Regions from separate parts of the Homo sapiens genome. Here region 2 is linked to region 1. Evidence: fine-mapped expression QTL. Tissue or cell type: whole blood. Region 1 holds a variant in brackets; the other region holds the start of a gene. Each region is shown on its reference strand, or each on the opposite one. Region 1 overlaps ZXDC (ZXD family zinc finger C). Region 2 holds the start of MTA2 (metastasis associated 1 family member 2).

Region 1 (10,293 bases):
TTATGGTATTCAGAACATCACTTTATAAACTGTTGCCAAATTACCACTTAAACACTAATATCCAAATACAGAATTTAGAAAATTATTTTAAATTTTAACTCTACCATCCCCCCGAGCTCTCGGCTATGAATTTAGTCTGGGAAGAGGGCTCCGTAATAGGCCACTGAGGTCCTCTGTCCCACCACATCATCCTCCCCCGAAAACTAGCTGCCCGACTGCTCTACCAGACTTGGGCTAGAATTTGGCTTCACGGTGGCAATGGGACCACCTGGGCCCTACAGTGTGGCAAAATCAACTTGCCCACAAACCCCATCCCAGGTGCTGGGATGCTAACACACTGAAGCTGAAAGACCACACTTGGTTTTGCCACAGATCAAGCTGCATCTGACTAGACAGCCTGTTCTCTACCCTATTTCCTGCAGAAGTCTTTTTCTTTGTAATGCAACAAGTGCTACACAGCTCAGATCCAACGGGACACGGGGAAAGAGGCTGTAGTGCACCTAGCCCTGCTGAGGGAGACCCTTGCCTTGCCAAAGCACTTTGCTCACAAAGGCAGTTTCAAAGAGTATAGCCCGAACTCATTCCTGGTAAAACAAAAGGAAAACATTTTTGATAAATGTACCCAAAAGTCTCAAAAGGGCTACGCTGGTCTTCTGAACGGAAACCAAATGAGGTCTCCCCAGGCTCATGTCATGAGTCTCAGGGAAGGTGTGTCCTAGACCGTGGCCTTGGGCCTGCCCAGGCCGAGGCTGCCGTCACTGCAGATCCTGCAGGTTGATAGTGCTTCCTGGGAACTGGGTGGCCTCCGGTCCAGCAGGGCCTCCAGATGAGGGGAGCACCTCCTGCAAAACCAAGCATTGTCATGAAGAGGGAGGAGGGAGGGGAGGCAGAGGGATCCTGTGGCTCCACACAGCAGGACACTGACCAGGCCCGTGGTGAGATACCTGACTTCTCTTACTCAAAACTACAGGCTCCCCTTATTCTAAACACATGTTCTTTGATGAAAAATGAACTCAATACTGTACTGTAAATTTTTCAAGATTGTTCTGTCTGCACATTGACGTATACCCTCACATGTTCATATACCCATATGCCTTTTTACAGAAACAAAATCATCTTTACTTCTGCAACCCTTTCTCCGCACTTCTCACGCGGTGAGCACTCTCCCAGGTATTAGGTGTCCGTCCGCCTGTGCCCTCACAGCTGACCAGGATGTGGCCCAGGGCTATGGAGGCCCCATCTAGCCTGTCTCCTCCTGCTACAAGAAGTGTTCCTGCTGTTGCACCATTTGACTCCGGGCTACGGTGATTATGTCACTACCTTATTTTTTCAGGAGCAGTCCCAGGAGGGGGCTGCCAGGCAGGATGGAGCAGACACTTCTGAAGTTCTCTGATCCATGCTGCCAAACCGCCCTCCAGCTCACCCCTCTGCAGCCTGGGTGCCCGGCCCTCTGCTCCCACCAGTGCTTCTGTCCAAGTTTGGTTTTGATTGCGAGGGAAATGCTGAATAGCCCAATTTGAATGCAAAAAAACTAAAACACAATTTGCATGGCTTATTGTAAATATATAAACACGTAAGGCAAACTGTTAGAAATGTGATAAGCTATACGCTTTCGCTATTTCATATCAAACTCTGAATCATTCACTGCCACCCATCCTTAGCTTAACCACGTAAGCAAACTACTGAATTCATCCGAGTCTATTCTCCCACAGGCTGGGCCCTGGCCAGCCCTCTTCCCAGAGAATTAACTGGAATTCCTAGGCACAACACTTTCAAGAGCATATTAACTTCTCCTGCTTTGTCTACCAGCAGGAGCTGCAGCGTCCTGCAGATCTGAGCTCCACTCACCCACCTTCTCCAGAAGGCAGCAAGACATCCTGGCAACCAACCCACTGAGCCTCCCAAGCCACGCGGCCTCAGTGACCAGCCTGCAGCTGTGAAGCCAGGCTTCTGGAAGTCGAAGGCTCTGCGAGTCTCAATAAGAAAAACAAAGGGCAGTAAGGCATCCAGACCTGGAGGACGTAGACGGGCAGGTCCACAGTGAGGAAGGGGAGGAAGGTGGCTGGGCCGCGGGCCGAGGGCAGGACACCTTCGCCGGAGGGGTCATCCTGGGAAGGCAACACAGAAAGGCCTGTCACATGTCTGTGAGAGTGCAGCAAAGGTCCTCGTCTCACCTGAGAAGTCTCCTCCAGCTGCAATGCGTGGCAGAACCAGCCCACCCCCTGTATTCCAAGGGAGGCCCGAGGACCCAGCAGGAATTGTTTATGGGGGCTGGGTACTACCTGTTCCCACCTGGTTCTCATTCTGTCACCTTGATCCCAGCAGCTTTTGCTGGGCCTGGAACCTTCTGCTCTCCAGCTCCTCCCCTCAGTCAGCCCAAATACTGATTTCCCTCCTAAGGCACGCTCCTCAACTCCTTGCAGGTGCCCTGGCACGCCCTGTACCCCCACCAACCTTGTGTACCCAGAGTGCTCTCCAGCAAATCCTCGGGCCCCACAGAGGGCCTTCCCTGCATGCCCCAGCTTGCCTACGGGCCAGCTGGAAGGACCAGGGCAGGTAGAGGGGCTCCTGAGAGGGGAGGCTGCCAGGCCCCTCACAGTCCAGGCTAGAAACTTCATCTGTCCCACACTTCGCCTGTCCTGCACCTGCATGTCCGCCCATGGCCATTCACACCCCGAAGCGGAGCTCCTGGTGCTGCTGCTCTGCACCTCTCATTCCTTCTGTTTGAGAAGCTCCTGTGTGTCAAGGTCTGCACTACTGTTCCCATTTCATAGATGACAAAACTGAGGCCCGGAGTGCTTAAGTAACCAAGACTACGCTAGCTGGTAAGGGACAGAAAAAGAACTCAAACCCAGGTTTAATCAGGCATCTCTTAAAAGTATACCCCCTACTTGCTCCTGTTCTGCCGGTGGCACCAGCTTCCCTACCGTCTCCCTATTGCCAAGCCTCTGGTCCTGACTCTGTACCTCTGCCCTGCCAGCTGAGGCAGTGTTTCCTTGGATGGTCCTCCCCCTCCCCCTGCCCCTGCTCCTGGGGAGTTCTTACCTCTTCAGAAGCTGGAAACAAAGGACCAGTGCTCCTGCCCCTCTCTAAGACAAGCTTCAGCCCCCATCTGACGCTCACCGCTAGCTTCCAACCAGCACAGGGCCACCCCCAGCTGCCCGCAGCCTCTTCCCTGCCCCCTTCCCAGCCCACCTCTGCCCAGGCTGCCCCTCCTCTTGCCTCTCTGAGCCCCAGGCCTGGTCCTGTTTCCTTGGCGAGACTCTCCCAGGACTCTGAACCCACAAACGTGCCTGTTTCCCAACTCAGAGCCAGCGTCACCTCCACCCTCCGCACTTCCGTGGGGCCTGCAACCGCATCCCCTGCCACAGGGAATCTACAAAGTGGAGTGGTGAAGAGGGGCACACACCTGGGCCAAACCCAGACAGCCCCGGCTTGTATATCTCTTCTCTCCCCAAATCCTTCCAAATCATCTTCCCTCCCCATTCCAGCCCCTCAAACTGAGACTGAAGATGCAGGTGTGCTCAGGGCTGCTGAAGCAGGTGTGCTCAAAGACCTCCTGGAAACTGGCCACAGCTGCAGGTATCTGTGGCCCGGACAGGCTGGGAGGGGCCTGGGCCTGCCCTGGAGGGGCTCTGTTTCGTAGGAAAGAAAATAGAAAAACACTGAAAAGACCCCCACCACCTTCAGCATAGAAAGGCTGCTAGTGCGCCACAAGCAGGCCGCCCTAGAAATGGGGTGGCTGAGACGGCCTGCGGAGCCCTTTTGCCCCAGCCCTGCAGAAGAAGGGCAGGGTGGCCTCAAACAGATCTCATCCTGCTGCAAAACAGCCCTGGGGGCCTCGGGCAGGGAGGCGGGCTACTCTGGGGCTAGACGCAGGGCTGTGCACAGACAGGTTCAGGAAGTGGATGCACGGTCCCAGCAACACTCAGAGCTTGAGCAGATGCAGGACAGGCTGGGAAAAAGGGAGGAGCTGGGCTGTGAGGAGACAGGACTTGGGGCAGTCTACAGGGGAGGATGCACGAGGGGCAGGCAGGCAGGGGGTGCTGCGATGGGCAGGGGATGCAGCATGCCGCACACTGCTCAGACCTGCGTGACCCTCCCACCCCGCCTACAGCTGGCCTGTGTGACTGGCCAG[C/T]TCTCACCTGCACCAGCTGGACCTGGACGCCCTGCGCCCCGCACTGCACCCCAGCTGCTGGAGCTGGTCCTGGCCGTCCTCCGCTGGGCACCACGAGGCTCCCACACAACCAACTGTTCTGGCTTGCATGGAAATGGGGAGGACTCATTTTGCCTTCTTTTATTTTTCTCTGAGTAGACTGTGAGGCTCCTAAAATGAAATATAAAAACGAGCACACCCAATCTACAATCTACCAGTCAGGTCTGCCCTTACCAAGGTCTCACTATGGGGAAGACAGCCTTCCCATTAATTGTCATTCTGCACAGCTAAGAGACGTAAAATCACTTAACAGAAAAAATCAAGAGTTAAGAGGTTGAAACAAACAACCATACGAACAAAAAAACATCAGGATTTTGATTTTAAAAATGTAAAAACATCATACGTATTTTTTTGCCAGACGGTACGGTAATCAGACACAAGCTGCAAATTCTTGGAGAGCAGAATCCTCTAACTCCAGCAGCTGCTGGCTGGCAGGAATCCCAAGCGCAACTGAGGACAGCCAACAGCCCAGAGCCACAGCATCATGGAATAGGAAGGAAGCGGGCGGTCTCCATACCCCACCTGTGGGTGGACTGCTGCCTCTGTCCAGCTCCTTTCCAAGTCACTACTCCATGGGTTTTACAAATATGTGCTTCTTAAGAAATGAAGTAAAGCACAAAGAAAAAAGAAAAAATCTTAACACCCATAACAAACCCAAGAGCTGCTTCAAAAGGGCCCAAAGGTAGCCTAGAGCGTGCACTGCAGAGACCCCGGCTAGGCTCACCCTGACCCGCCACCCACTCTGCTCCAGGGATCTGGAAAAGGAACTCAAGCTCTGGGCCTCAGCATTATCTACCTGTAAAATGGGAATGCTAGTCCCAACCTCGGAAGGTTTTGGAGAGGATTTCATAGGAAATATGTGATCAAAACTTAGAACAGTGACTGGCGAGTGCCAAGGAGTTTAGGCACTGTCACTGCTCTGCCCACACATCCCTGCCTGGATGTGTGGGATCCAGCTATGAACGGCTTCAAAAAAACAACTGTACAATGACTATCATATAAGTTATTCCTAATAAAAGTATTCAATTGGGTGACCCTGCTGCCCAAGGCAGGCTGTTTTTACGAGGCTGTTTGACAGGAAGGTTCTGAGCAGCCCATGGGGTGAGAGCTGACTTGCCCTGCATATGCTGTCTCCCTGACCTGCTCACCTCACTCCAGATCCCTTCCTGTCTTCCGCAGTGCCCTGGGTCCCGGAGAGCTTCACACTCAGCAGGCAAGCCAACTGGGTGCACAAACCTTGGGTCCTCTGTACTTAGGCACAGCCTGCTGTCTTTTCTGGGTGCCTCAGGGCTCTTTTTCTTTGAAGTGCAAATGCTAACCAGGAGGTTTCTGGGTAACACAGATTCAGTTCCCCCTCACTGCAGGGAGATGCACTTCCATTACAAAATACTTCCTTTCTGTTCATCCATCAGTGTTCCAGAAAACCCAGCAACCCTCGCTCTGGATCATCTCTGACTGTTCTCCACGCCTGGTTTCTCTTTTTCTAATTGCTCTACTTGCTTCAGACAGAAGAGCAGGGCTGGGTCTGGGGCAAGAGAGGTGCCTGGGGCACAAAACTTACTCACCCCTCCTTGAGGAAACTTCACATCAGTTCCTAGTACTGCAGTCTATTAAGTCTGCAATAACATTATGTCTAAAACAATGCATACCTTAATTTAAAAATACTTTATTGCTAACAAATACCGACATAGACATGAAGTGAGAACATGCTGTTGGAAAAATGGTGCCAACAGACTTGCTGGATACAGGTTTGCCACAAACCTTCAATTTGTAAAAAGCAAAAAAAAAGTCAACTGCAAAAAATGAAGCGTGCCTATATCCTCCGTGAGCTTGTATACTATCCCACTTACCTCCAGAATTTTACCTGAATGCATTTCTATGCTTTCAAGTCTTTTATCACCCTAGCATATAAAAATATGTACATAAACTTAACTTTTATTTAACTTCTAGGCATTAACATTTTTGGTTTGAACTGTTACAACTGCAATTATTAGTAATGCAAAACAAATCAAAACAAAATATATCAGAAACTTTGATAGATAATTATGATATTAAAAGCAAAATTATATTAAAAATGCTTTTCAAGAGGAGTGGGACTGACTGGTGGTTTTCTTCCCCAGTTAGTTCATGTATTTGTGTCTAAATATTACTTCTTGCTAGAATTAGACATGGTCAGCATCTATTCTTGTCAATTAAAAACTTTTTTAAAATAAGATGCTCATGTGTCATCACAACTTTGCAGCTGCAGGTTGAGTTTATTCAAGTGAGGGGGAACTGCCTGCCCACGAAGCCCCAGCAGCAGGGCCGGTGCTGCAGCCAGAACAGTCGCATTACGCTTGCTTTCTAATAAAAGGCCTGGCTTCATTTTTAAATTCAAATAAAAATACTGAAACATGTTATTATATTAGAAATATTGGCCGGGCGCAGTGGCTCACGCCTGTAATCCCAGCGCTTTGGGAGGCCAAGGCGGGCAGATTACAAGGTCAGGAGATCGAGACCATCCTGGCTAACACGGTGAAACCTCGTCTCTACTAAAAATACAAAAAATTAGCCAGTGGTGGTGGCGGGTGCCTGTAGTCCCAGCTACTCGGGAGGCTGAGGCAGGAGAATGGCATGAACCCAGGAGGCAGAGCTTGCAGTGAGCCGAGATCATGCCACTGCACTCCAGCCTGGGTGACAGAGCGAGACTCCCTCTCAAAAAAAAAAAATAATAATAATATGAAAACCACTGTAGAATAAATTAAGGCAGGCAGTGAATAGTGTATCTCTCCAGATTTCTTTTAAAAGCAGGCAAGATTTTAAATGATGTATATCAAGTATTTATTATCAAGTTTTATAACATAAACAAGATAAAACTGAGCCATTCATCATGATTCAATGCCAAATGTGTACGCCACGCTCTAAGTTACCTACAAAGCAAGAAATATGACTGAATCCTAATATTCCTTTGCAAAATGTGTGCTAGAATGTATGTGCCATTCGAATCATGGGAAAATCAGAATTGGGTGCAAAATCAGAAATAATTCCACTAATGTTGCTAGACATGGTTACACTTTCCTTTTATACCTAAACCAGTAACTAAAATGATTCTATCTTTATTAACAATTTACTTGTATTACTTTTACAACAGGAAAAAAGATAGGCTGTAACGAGAATATCTCATGACAAGCTAAATTGGTTTCAACTTCTGTATCAGCATACAATATGAAAAAAAATCACAGGAATTTCTTTTCAATCCGCACATTTAATTCAGTGTCTCAGGTAGTCCTGTAGACACCAGTTACACTGAGAAGAAACACCACCACTAATTTGCATCAGAAGGTATTTTTCTTCCCAGCTAACAACTCGTCTAGGGATAAAAAGTCAATAGCTGAAAAGAATTGCTCACGCTTATACATACATAGGGCTCATTCCTGAAAAGTAATACATTCTTTGACAACAGCAGAGGGCTGGCAAAGGTGAGGACTTTCTACGAGAGATGTCCATCCATGCCCCACATCCCCTCTCTGATGTACCTCAAGCAGAACATCTCAGCGTCCACCCCTAGACACATCTCTGCACAGGAAGGGTAAGCTGGCAAGCCCGGCTCATTAAAGTTTTAATGTCGGTATTATTCTACAGGATGCTTCCCTGAAACCAGTATTTGGAACTGCCCCTGGGTTTGGTGCTCTGGAAGGATATCCTGTTTTTGTGTGCACTCCAAGGCAACACACTGCAGTAGAAGTCTGGTGGAGAGTTGCAGCCTCCCCGTTTTTTGGCAAGCAGAAGGACAGCTGTGGGTGAGGGGGAGAACCTGCCACAGATGAGCTCGGACACCCCTTCTCAGAGAGTCCGTTCCAGCAAGGACTGCACCTGGAAGATGAACCTGGAAAGGATGCAGGGGTCCAGGCCAACAGCTGTGAGAGAACAGGGCAGCCAGGGGAGGAGGGGCCAAGCCCCAGTTGCTGAGTTGTCCCCCAGGCCTGAGCAGGGTGTTCTGTCCTAGAATCCCTGACGGTACACCCTGAAGTCTGGTGGTATGTCGTGAACATTTAAGATGGCTGAAAGTTAATCATAAACTTCCTGGGTTAACTAAGCAAGTATGTTTATCTAGGGATGCTTAAGGACATGCCAAAGCAAACAAATGGGGTCCACACCACGTCCTCACGATAACCATGAAGCCCTGGGTCCTCACTAGTAAAGGGCGCCATGGCATCAAATGCAATATGATCAATTTAATTAATAAAGCAGTCACAAGAAAAATCAAATTCCTCTCTCACAATGGACAACCACAAACCCTTATAGAACAAGGTAACAACACCGAACTACATTTTGCTTCAATATTTTCAATCATTATCCAAAATGCTTGCTTGTGCTGGAGAATCTGCAGGAGTGGGGAGAGGAGCAGTATAAATCCAACACCAAGCAACCTCCTGGGAAGCAAGGAAGGACTCCTTAAGGAAGAGTCCTATCTAGGTATGATGGTAAATAGCAAAGTGGTCAAGGGCCCCGGCTTGGGAGCTGGACGATCCAGCTATGTGACTCAGCTCCCATCATCTGCGGTGAATGGAGATGGCCACACTGCTTTCACCTCACCGTGCCATGACGAGAATTAGGTGAGGTCAACAGCACTGGGCCTGGCTCAAACAGCATGCCATCCCCACACCAGTAGCACCGCAGTGCCTGCCACAGGACAGAGTTCAGAGCCAGCCAGGTGCCCCGAGAAAGGATCTGCACAGATGAGGCTCAGGCCCCTCCCTTGATAACCACAGGGGGTCATGCGAGCTTCCTCTACTGAGATCCTCACTTGAACAGGAGGTAAGTGACTATTTTCCCAATTCTCCCAAGGGTGGAAGATCAGAGGTCACTGGGGCTTAACTCACTAGGTCCCTGACATGGTTAGTTCAACACAGCTCTTATAAAGATATAATATGTTAATATACTTATCCACAAGGAAAAATATTCATATTAAGAACAAAAAGCAGATAAAAATGTTTATCATTTTTCAAAAACAAGTCATTTGTGTAGGTTTCAGATTTCACATTTGTGTAGGTTTCATTCAGTTTAACACTGAAACACTGTAAGTAGTTTTTCTTGGGTGGTGAAGCTACAGGGGAGAAAGCATAAGGAACCCACAATGATCTCTTCCAGAGTAAACCCACATGACCAGCCCTGCCTGTGCTGAGTGCTCACCCTTTGCTTAGGGATGTGCTGCTCACACGACAGGTCCTTTGTTCTGCAGGGGCACTCTCTCCTCCAGGGCATCTGGCAGGCCCTGAGTACCCGACTGCCTCCTCCCATCTCACAGCCTTCATGGGTATTCTCACCAAGCTACCTTCCCAGATGAACTTAAAGTAGACAGGTGTTTAAGTTACTCTGGGATTTTACAGGAACTGAATAAAGTATGTAAGTGAACAAGAATTGGGCATCTCTAGCTGGCAGACCCTACACAGGACCTTACCCATTCAGAGCACACTTGTCATGAGTGAGCCTGGCATATTTTATTACTTTTACTGTCATTATGAATAAGGTCAGTTTTTCACAATTATTCTTATTGGAAAATCTATTAATTTTATATATACAAATATGTACTGTGCAATTAGCTATCTATTGATCCTTCTTATTTCTAATTGCTTGAGTTGATTCCCCTGGGTTTTCTAAGCCTGACAATGACTTTGTCATTAAGTAATCATCATTCTCTCCTTTCTATTTGATTCTGCTTCTTTAAAAATAGAGACTTCCATAAAAGTGTCAAATAGATTGCGCCAATGGTTTGGTTTACCATTCCTCCAGCTTTGGGGGGATGCCAACATCTCTCCACTGAAAATGCCACTGACAGCTGGCTGCTCTCTAGTATTAGGGAAATCTGGGTTCCTAGTTGATTCATATTTGTGATGTTTTCAAATCAGTAGCAGGTGATGAATGTCATCAACTGCCCTGTTCGGCCTCTGTGGACCCTGCACGTCTCTTGCGGCATTTGCTGTGGCAAATCATGCTGACAGGCTGCCTCGCCCCACATCACCCTCGCCCGCTGTCCATGTGCTGGTATTTCACTTGGGATTCCCATGCCTGCTTCACCTGCTGGAGGTGAGACACAG
Region 2 (10,293 bases), not on the chromosome of region 1:
GCTGAGGCAGGAGAGTGGTGTGAACCCGGGAGGCGGAGCTTGCAGTGAGCTGAGATTGCGCCACTGCACTCCAGCCTGGGCGACAGAGCAAGACTCCTCTCAAAACAAAACAAAACAAACAAAAAAAAAACACTCCCACTCCCTCAGAGATACCCTCCTCTTCTGTTCCCAGGCTCTGCAAGTCCCCAGAAAACCCAGCCTGCCCAACTACCCACCAACTTCTGCTCACCAGAGTGATATCTCGGGAGGCAGCAGCTGCACTCATGTGCAAGCTTGGCTGCCGAATGGAGCTGCTACAATCTAGGGCTCTTGCAAAGGTTCCCACAGCTCTAAGGGAGAAATTGAGAAGTCAAAAGCGAAAGAAAAGTCAAAAGCCCAAGTGGGCTGGGAAATTAAGCCAAAGGAGAAAGAAGGAAAACATCCATGGCAATGAAAGAAATAAAGTCCATCTCTAAGAACCATGGGACTCAGAACAATGTCCACACCTCCCCCAGCCCATCTTCCCTATCCACCCACCCCTCACCGGGCCACCACAAGAAACTGGTCGATCTGCCGGTCTGTGAGAGGGTTGTCTGGGTCCCAGACCTTCATCTCCATCTTCTGCTGGTTCCGATTATCAGATTCTCCTGGGGAAAAGAACAATGGCATCAACAGGGAGAGGGCAGGGGGGAACAGTTGGTGTCTTTTCATTCACAATAGCACCTCCTCCTTCTCTTCTTCTGCTTGGATTCTATCAACTCTCCGACTTCTCTTCCCAACTGTTCCCATTTTCCCTTTTCAGGTTCCTACAGGCCCATTCTGTCAGGGTCATGGCAGAGAGCCCTGCAGACAGTGCACTGCACAACCCCAGGTGACGCCATTCACAGAGACTATAATGTTAAAGTGCCCCTTGGAATTAGACAACCTGGTAGCCGTACAGTCTTGTCCTGTTGCTTACCCTCTACTAGGCGATCTGGGATCTCAGCTTGGTATTTGCAACCAACTCTAATCTCGCCCTGATCAGCGAGAAGTGTCTTCTGCACGGGGTCAAACACCAGTGAGTAAAAAAAGCAGTCCTGGAATTGGGGAGAGACAAGGTAAGCAAGGCAGCAATCCACATAGGCGGCGGGGAGGGAGGTGTATCTGAGTTTCCATGACCGGCAGTCTGGCAACCCTGTACCTCATCATTGTGCTCCTTTCCCCCTCTCTTTTGCGGGCAATACCCATTCCCCTCGCTCTTCTCTCAACATCTCTTTCTCACCTCCTTTTCCAGGTACTGGCTCAAGATATCTGTCTCATTCAAGAGGGTCACACTGCATTTCCCCCTATAGGAGAGAGATTGGAAAACCCCGGTGAGCCCCACTCTCCCTCCCCACAGCATCTCTCAATACCACCTCCTTCTCTCCATCTTCTACGTAAGTGCACGCAGGCTATGCTGGCCCCAGTTGTCCTGTACCGTATGTGGGTGGCTGGTAATGATTCAAATTGCCGAGAAAGAAAAAGTTCCCGGTGCTTCAGTTGATGGCGCTGCTGCTCAGACACCCCTGGCTGCTTTGATTCCTCTTCAAACTCCCCTGGGAGATTAAAGAGGAAGAAACCAAGTCAGAAATGGATCCAGCAAAACACCACCCTGGAAACTCTAACTCAGGGAAAATATTTCCTATCTTGGCTGTTTTTTTCTCACATTTCCCAGGCGTCTGCCTTCTATACCCTTATCCCACCAGCTTTCCTTCTTAGCTCTATGCCCCATCATAGATGCTCCCAACTCTATCAGTAATGCTTTTAGAGAAGAACTGCTGAGAGTACGAAGAATGCTCTAGAAATACATCGCTACCCAGCTGCCAGTACTCAGACACCAAAGTCCACAACGGGCCAGCAAGAACATCACACTTGTCTCTTGCTTGCTAAACCAGCCTGAGGTCCAGGAACTCAAGATGAAAAAATATCACACAAGACTGTGTTTACCAGTTCTTTTCAATTTCAGGAGACTCTTTGCTCTAAAACATCACATGCAGCCCTAACTATCCCTCATTTTCTACTTGGCTAATAATAGTTCCTGGGGTTTCCAAGGACAACACCTCTCAAGCCAGTGCCAACACCTTCCTCCCCAAGGAGCTGCAGCTTGCCCTGAAACCTAGCGGAAGGGGTTAACCTGGCTAGGCGCCAACCAAAGTGGGAGGGAGCAGAAGAACCTCAGCCCCAGGCTCATTGGTGTATTGTTCCCAACCTCAGGGAGAAGGGGGGGGTTGTGCAGTAGGCTCCACCCCTCGCTTGTGTGCTCCGGAAACCCTGTGCTGAGGCAAGGGGGACCACACCCCCAACACCCCTTCTGATTGGACAAGGCCAAGGTCAGCCCCTGCCAGATGGGGCTGGAAACCCTAAAGGGCCAAGGAACTTGGTAAGCTGGGCTCCTCTTTAACCCCTTCTCACCCAGAGCAGTCTGAAAAAGGAAAATAATTTAGAAAGGTGGAACAAAAGGAAGGAAAAAGAAAACCAAAGCAGGAAAGGAAAAAGAAGCTAAGGAAAATATGTTTTTTAAAAAAAGAAGATGAGACCTTAAAGAGAATGAAGATAGGGCAAAATGAAAAGGGAAAGATGTAAAATGGAGGGGGGCGGGCGGGGAAATGGGCGAGGTGAGAAATTAAAAAGCGCAAGAAAACTTCCAGCCATCTTCTAACTTCCAGGTACTCTCATCACCTTGTGATTACAAAATAAGCCTGCTTCTCTGTTACGCAGGCTTCTCAGTACAATGTCTTCCTCTTCACGTTGACCTTCAGTCATCACCTACTGTCTCAATGTACCCCAAACTGCCCCCCTTTAGAAAACCATTGTTTCTCTAAAGCTCGTCCTCATACTCTAAATGTTATCATCTCTCTCTTACTCTCATATACAAACCATATTATCGCTTTCCTTATCACAATCTCTCCACCCTGCTTCCAACCCCAACATGTAAAAACAGGCCTCCCTCCTCAGGCCAGGCATTTCCCACCCCCAAACTCACACCTCTGCCTTGGGCATGCTACCAGGGGAAATACCTGCAGGGACATGCCCAGGCCTCAGATCATGGGTAGGAGAAAAAGAAAGGGAGGAAGATACTCACTGGCATTACTATCAGCCAGGCTGTTGAGGCTACTAGAAATGTCCCTGCGCCGGAAAAGACAGACAACCTTTGCCTCCACATTTCCATTTGCAGTCTAAGGGGAGGAAAAAAACAAAAACAAAACAACGTAGCAGTGGAAATTGATCATCTGGGAACAGAAATGCACAAAGAGACAAATAACAGTAAGTTTCAGAGGGACCTAAATTAAAAAGCCCAAGAAAATATGAGTAAAGACTTACATTCAAGGATAGACTTCCAAATCCCTTTCCTTTGCCCCCAAGAGACAGAATAGTAAAGTTCCTGCTAACCTCTCAATAGCCTTTCCTGAATACATCCAATGAATGAATGAACGAATATGAATGGGTACTTAGTATAGGATCCTCTCTTCCACCAGAAGTTAGAAACCTCAGAAGAGACCACTGCGGGAGGGAGGGAGAGGGATTCTGCTCCACTCACCTTGTTGAGCTCCTCAATCCGTCTAACCAGGTAAGGATTGCTGGAAGAGTTCTCAAAATAGACGTAATCTGTAAGGGAAGGGAGGGGGGAGAACCACGAAGATCAGAGGAGATGGGAGACGCAGAGCACCAGGGTAGGAGAGAAAGTTGGCCTGAGTGGATCAAAAGGAGATAAGGATTCAGGTAGAAAGGGCGCTGAGATGTGAAAGTGGACAGACTAAGAGAAAATAAGGATGTCCCCCATCCCCACCGCACCTAGTTCTAAAATTAGATCCTTTACTCAAAAGAGAGCCTTAAGGAACAGGCAAGAAGCAGGGGTTCCCCTGCAGTCCCCACAACTCAGCGATGAGTTGCACCCCAGTCGCGGCGAAGTAATTGTCCGCTCTAGCGCAGGGCCCCTACCTTTTCGAATCGAGGCGCACAATAACGCCTGGGAAGAGGAAACCTCCGGGCGGCTCCCCCGCGGTGGCAAAGCCGTCGCCCCAGCCCCTCGCGTTCCCTCCCTACCCTGTCAGCTCCTTCGGAACCGGTTCCGAAGGCCACTCCGTGCCCCGGGGAGCCCCTGACGCAGCCCCGAAAGTGCCGTCGGGGCTGCCCGCAGCTTCTCTCTGGGAGTCTCGGAGCCCTGCCGCGTCGCGGTTCCCCGCACCCTCTCTCCTCGTCTCCCGGTTCCGGTTCCGGTCCGCGCTCCGGTCCACGCTGCCCCATACGCTGCGCCTCGCGCCACCCGGTGCCGAGCCCCTCAGGTCCCTACCCCAACCTCTCCCGCCCCGGGCCCCGTATCCCTGCGCCCGGTACTCACCTCCCACCCGGTACATGTTGGCCGCCATGGCCGTTCCCGCCGCCGCCTCCGGCCGCACAAAGGGGTCCGGGAGGCTCGCGGGGGCAGGGCTCGGCTCGAGGCAAAGCCCCGAACGGTGGGCTGCCGCTTCGAGGGAGTCTCACTGGGGCCCGCGCAGCCGGCACCTCCGCTGCCTCAGCCGTCGCGGTTCATCCCGGCCCGCGCTGTCGCCGCCGCAGCTATCGCCTCACTCCCGGGACGCTGAGGCTGGCCCCCGTCCGCTCGGCTTCTTCCGGAACGAGCTCGGCTCCTGCCAGGCCAGAGCCAGGCTCCAGCTACCCCCGCCCCCGCGGAGTCCCACTAGTCGTTGGGCTCTGCCGGCCGCAGGGAAGGCTTGCCGGGCCCGCCTCAGGGTTCGCCTCCTTCCGGAACACCTTCGGCCGATCCGGAGAACAAGGCCCACTGCTCGGCTCAGGTCGGAGAGCGAGACCCCGCAGATCGGCTACTTCCGGAAGAAGTTCGGCTCCTGTCGGGCAACCGCTCGGCTATTTCCGTCGCAGCTCGGCCCCACCCCCTTTTCCGAGGGCGGGAGAGGAGTCGGGCTTAACTCTGTCCTCGCTGGAGCCCTGCAGCTCCTCCTCGCGCCCCAAAGACTCGCGCGCCTTAGCGCTTCGCCAGGTTATTTGCAAGCGGCTTTGCCTGTCATTTGCATAAATGGTCTACGCTCCCTTACCCTTTCCGCACGCCTCTTTTCCTTCGTCCCCACCCCACAGAGCCCCGGAGGCGCCCGGCAGCGCCCCACAAAAGCACCGGGAGGCGACTTTGGTTCTGGTTTATTGCCCCTCAGCAGGCAGCGGGAGTCAAGGCCTAGGCTGGGGCTGCCCGGCTCAGCCAGCGGGTCTAAACAGTGTGTGCAGGGGCGCCGTTCGCGCCCTCCAGGAAAATGCGCGATCGGGAATGTCTCGAAGTCAGTCCAGGAAAGAGTCGGCCCCTAGTCGTGGGGGATTGGGCCAGGGAAGGGCAGGGCGGGGCGGGGCCACGCCGCCGGGCCAGTCGGTCCCGCCAGGCAGCGATCAAACGTCGAGGGAGGAGGCGGGGGACAGGGAGGGGGTTCGAGAGGGCGTGGCGGGCGCCGGCCCCGCGCCCCCAGCGCCCAGCACTCGCCACTGGAAGATGCTGGCGTCCTTGCCGCCCAGCGAGACGAGGTGCGAGTCGTCGTGCGTGAATCGGACGCTGGTCACGTGGCTGCCGTGGCCCCCGTACATGCGGCTCGGCGCCTGGGCCGGAGGGAAGAGTTGCGGTGGCGGCTGAGCCCTCGGGCCCACCGGTCCCACCCCGGCGATCCCCGCGGCCTCACCTTGGCACGAGCGCACGGGTACTGGAAGAGATGCACTTTGCAGAAGTCGTCGGCCACCGCCACCACGCGCTCGTTGTGGGAGCGGCACAGGGAGTTGATGTCGGTCCCATCGGAGCCGTCCGGCCAGACGCCTAGCACAGCGGCCGGCCTCAGCCCGACCTCCTACCCACCGCCACCCACGGCCCAGAGCTACACCATTTCAGGCGCTCCGGCAGCCGCGGCCACCCACTGCCGCGTTCCAGGCAAGCCTTCCCGGTCCCGAGGGGCCTCCTGGGCTGGATCTTCAGGTTTCTGGACTCTCACCCAACGACACACGCCCAGCGTTCCAAGCCCAAACTGGGCTCCACCTTGTCCCCCACCCTTCCAGCAGGTTTCCACGCCCCTGCTCACCGTAGACGTGAAAGCCCAGCACACAGGTGTAGGTAGCCCATTCCCGGTCTCGGCTCTCATAGCGATTCTTCAGCTGCTTGCAGCCTCCAGCCACGTCCCCTGGGGAGAGGGAGCCCGCCCAGCTCAGCTCTCACCCTGCCCTCAGTAGGGAAGATGCCAGGGAAAGCCAGACTGGAAAGACTGGCATGAAACCCGGCGATGGCATGTGATCTGGTCACCGTAGTAGCATCACCTCCTCCCCCTGTGAAACCCACCCTGTGTGCGTCCTGTCCTGAGCTCTGGCTGAAGTTCTAACAGCTTCCACGAGTTCCTCCTCCCTAGATAAGTCAAGTGCTCCACACTTGCCCTGAGAAACTTTTCCCAAACAATCTTTTCTTAGCGCATTTTTGAACTCCCTCAAGTCAACAAGACATGGTGTGAAACTAGTTGTTTCCAAATCACGAAATTTCTCCTACATATAATTCCAACTCCACTTTAACCCCATCTCCACTTCCTTATCTAACAACACCTCTAACAGCCCCCCCTACACAAAACCCACTCCAATTACCCTCTCCCCATGTCCTGCTCCACTGCCACTCACAGTAAAGAATCTCATAGTCCCCAGAATTGGACATGATGAAATTCCCATCCTTGGACCAGTCAAGATGAGTGATGAAGCTGGAGTGACCCTGGGAGCAAAGGTCAAGAGTTTTAAAGTATCCCATCCATTTCCCATCCCCAGAGCCCCCTTGATGCATCAGACCCCTGAGTTTCGCAGCTGTTATCATGCCCCACCACACACCCCAACTTCCTCACCATACAGCGGCCAAAGCGGCTGGATTTGGCACCATCACTGGAAACACTATAGATGTAGATCACGTTGTCATGGGAACCAATGGCCAGGTACAACCCATCTGCAAATACAGTCACTCAGAGAGGGAAGGGCCAGGGACGCATGTGAGTCCAGGGTTGGGGTGGCTCCCACCTGGGCTGTACCGGACCACTGAGAGCTGCTCATTGCCATCAATGACATCAGACACGATCTCTCTGGTCTCTGTGTCCAAAACCAACCACCTGGAAGGGAGGGAAGTGGAGGCAGATAGGAAGACGAAAAGGCAGGATGTAAGGAGACCCCCAGGGAGGCCACCCTGGGTAGGCTTGGGGATGGCAAATAAGAGAAGCTCAGAGACACACACAGAAAGGCTCTGATGTAGAAGACAGGTCACAACTGCATTCTTCTTTTTTAGTTTGTTGTTGTTGTTGTTGTTGTTTTGAGACAGAGTCTCACTCTGTCACCCAGGCTGGAGTGCAGTGGCAAGATCTCAACGCAACCTCCACCTCCTGGGTTCAAGTGATTCTCATGCCTCAGCCTCCTGAGTAGCTAGAATTACAGGTGCGTACCACCATGCCCGTCTAATTTTTGTATTTTTAGTGGAGACGAGGTTTCACCATGTTGGCCAGGCTGGTCTTGAACTCCTGACCTCAAGTGATCCACCCGCCTCAGCTCCCAAAGCGCTAGGATTACAGGCGTGAGCCACCGCACCTGGCCACCACTGCATTCTTATGCTGAGAAATGGGAAGGAGCTAAGTGTGGATAAAGGCTGAGGGGCTTCTGATGTCGTCTGAAAAAGTAATCTGAAACTACAGACCAGGGGCCGACTACAAAGGCACTGTGCAAGCTGGAAGCCTGTCACTTCCCTGTGTTTGTCTATGCCCCTCCCATTCCCACTGTTTCTCTATCCTGGGCTGCTGCCTCCTCCACTCCCAGGCTTGGAGGAGACACTGGGTTGGGGGAGGGGGAGAAACAGTTACCACAGAAGAGGAGGGGAGCCCGGGTGGCAGGGGCTGCAGGGAGAGGCACAGAGGAGTGCCAAGGCGCAGGTGGCTCCTGGGTAGAGGTGGTCACTCTCGCCCACTCCCCCAGTACCAGGAACCCTTCCCAGTCCTCCCTGCTTTCCCTCCTGGGAGTCCTGGCTCTCTCTCACCTCCCCGTGTTCAGTCCTACGGCCACAACTGCCCCACTCGGGTGGAAGTCAGCACAGAGACCAGTCTCCTGGGAGAGGGGAGAAGGTGAATTCAAGATGATGTCTTTCTAGTGAGGGAACCAGAGTGAACCCCTTGTCCTCCTAACTTCAAAGCCACTTACTCCCAAGGAGAAGATGGGAAGAGAGGGAAGGGATACCCGGGTATCACTGGAGCCTGAACAGGGAGTGATACCAAAATATTTAACCACAGAACTGATGCCAATAGCTGTGCTGGAGATTAACCATTTAGGTGCTGGATCAAGAGGAAGTCTGAGGGGTTCTGGGGGCGGCAGGGAGTGCCCAGGTGGTACTAGAAGCATCAGCTTTTACCAGTCAGTACAGAAAAATTAATATTTGAGTAGCCAGTGCAGCCATACCAGTACAAACTGGCCACCTCTGGGAGGCAGAAGGCAAGGTGCTGGGGAAGGCGTGGTGGCCACAGGTGTCCTGGTGGGTGTGGCATGGGGGATCCAGGGGCACAGGGCTCTACCTTGAGGTCGATGCTCCAGGCCAGTGCATGGCTCTCCCCATCCCACAGGCAGAGCTGCCGGTCGTGGCCGCAGGTGAGGAAGCGGTTCTGGGAGGGGTGTGTGCAGAGCCCCCAGAGCTCATCAGTGTGGCCCTGCAGCACAGCATGACTGTCACTCCTGCCCCTCTCTCACACCCCTTTGTCCCTTCCTCCCCTGAGCCCTTAACCCCCAACCTGGATTACAGGGGAGAAGCCCTGGGCCAGGTCTCCCCTCAGCAATGCATTCTTCGTGGTTCCCACCAGCAGCTCAGAGCCAAGCCCTTCAGCAATGGCTCGCACGGCCCCGAAGTGCTCGGGAATCTGCAGAGTGGTAGCAGAATGTCAAGAGCCCACTGACTATTGCTCTTCTCCCTCACTCCCTTGACCCCAGCCCAGCCCTCACCTCAGCCTCCTGGAGGGCCACCAACCCGGGCCCCCACTGTACCAGCCGGCGGTCCCGCCCGCCACCACTCAGCACTGTCCCGTCCCTCCGGAGACACAAGGCGAAGATAGAACCTTCATGAGCGTGAGCCTGGGCCACAATCCCATAGGTCTCTGTTGGCAAAGCCCCAGGTAGATCATGTTTTGGGGGTGCAGGGGAGTGAGAAACAGGGCCAGCTTGGCTGTCGCAATACAGTAAGAACTCCCAGCCATTGCATGCACTGACTACTATGTCTCATCCTCATACTGCCAACACATCTGTTATTCTCCCCATTTTACAAACAGGACAACTGAGACTCACAGAAATGAGGTAACTTCCTAAAGGCAAGGCAACTAATAGCAAAACTGGAATCTGAACCTGAGATCTGGCAAACACAAAGCTCCAGCCGTTTCTCCTTTGCTGTGCTGCCCACACGCTTCTAGACTAGCCCCCAAGAGAACTATCAACTCTCAAGGTAAAAAGGTGGGAAACCTGGCTGGGCGCCGTGGCTCACGCCTGTAATCCCAGCACTTTGGGAGGCCAAGGCGGGCGGATCACCTGAGGTCAGGAATTCGAGACCAGCCTGGCCAACATGGCAAAACCCCATCTCTACTAAAAATACAAAAATTAGCTGGGCGTGGTGGCGTGTGCCTGTACTTCCAGCTACTTGGGAGACTGAGGAAGGAGGATCACTTGAACCTGGAAGGCAGAGGTTGCAGTGAACCAAGATCGCGCCACTGCAATCCAGCCTGGGCAACAGAGTAAGACCTCATCTCAAAAAAAAAAAAAAAAAAGATGGGAATGGGAAACCCTCTCCTCTGTTCCCACAGAACCTCTGGAGTACTACACTTCCCAGATGCCCCTCCCAGCCACATACCTTTGGCGCCACCCCTGCCTGGGGTCTTGGAATCTGAAGGGCTCCGCCCCCAGGTGAGAATGTTCCCCTCTGAGTCTCCAGTGAGAATGTCTCCATCCGGAAGGAACACAAAGCAAGGGATAAACTTGGGTTTCTTGTATTTCTAGTGGGAGGGGAGAGCAGACAGTAGAGGTCAAAGGGAAGGGCAAAGATTAAAAGTCGCAGGGCAGGCCAGGTGCAGTGGCTCATGCCTGTAATCCCAGCACTTTGGGAGGCCAAGGCGGGCGGGTCACCTGAGGCCAGGAGTTTGTGACCAGCCTGGCCAATATGGTGAAATCCCGCACTGCACTCCAGCCTGGGTGATAGAGCAAGGCACTGTCTCAAAAACAAAAAAAACAAAAAAAAAACGGGCATGATGGCCAACATGATGAAACCGTATCTCT

The links.
Region 2: it holds the start of MTA2, and the variant in region 1 is fine-mapped to the expression of MTA2 in whole blood (TOPMed, PIP above 0.99).

Annotation. Positions count from the first base shown.
Region 1 is chr3:126,437,620-126,447,912 of GRCh38, forward strand. ZXDC (ZXD family zinc finger C) reads right to left here. Exons shown (of 10, transcript NM_025112.5): 8 at 4,146-4,327; 9 at 2,013-2,108; 10 at 1-842. The coding sequence ends at 756. Among named protein-coding and RNA genes, the nearest start is that of ZXDC, 33 kb to the right of the region's middle. RefSeq lists an enhancer at 3,624-4,259. The variant C/T (reference allele first, on the strand shown) is at 4,139.
Region 2 is chr11:62,597,087-62,607,379 of GRCh38, forward strand. MTA2 (metastasis associated 1 family member 2) reads right to left here and starts at 4,779. Exons shown (of 18, transcript NM_004739.4): 1 at 4,337-4,779; 2 at 3,536-3,603; 3 at 3,080-3,173; 4 at 1,436-1,553; 5 at 1,241-1,304; 6 at 938-1,055; 7 at 524-626; 8 at 230-329. The coding sequence starts at 4,364. EML3 (EMAP like 3) reads right to left here. Exons shown (of 22, transcript NM_153265.3): 12 at 9,872-10,013; 13 at 8,977-9,128; 14 at 8,769-8,894; 15 at 8,556-8,687; 16 at 8,027-8,094; 17 at 7,027-7,115; 18 at 6,858-6,955; 19 at 6,643-6,730; 20 at 6,063-6,161; 21 at 5,673-5,803; 22 at 5,132-5,592. The coding sequence ends at 5,389. RefSeq lists enhancers at 1,917-2,056, 3,650-4,360, 3,795-3,844, 5,225-5,274, 5,783-6,492 and silencers at 4,095-4,174, 4,255-4,354, 4,425-4,474.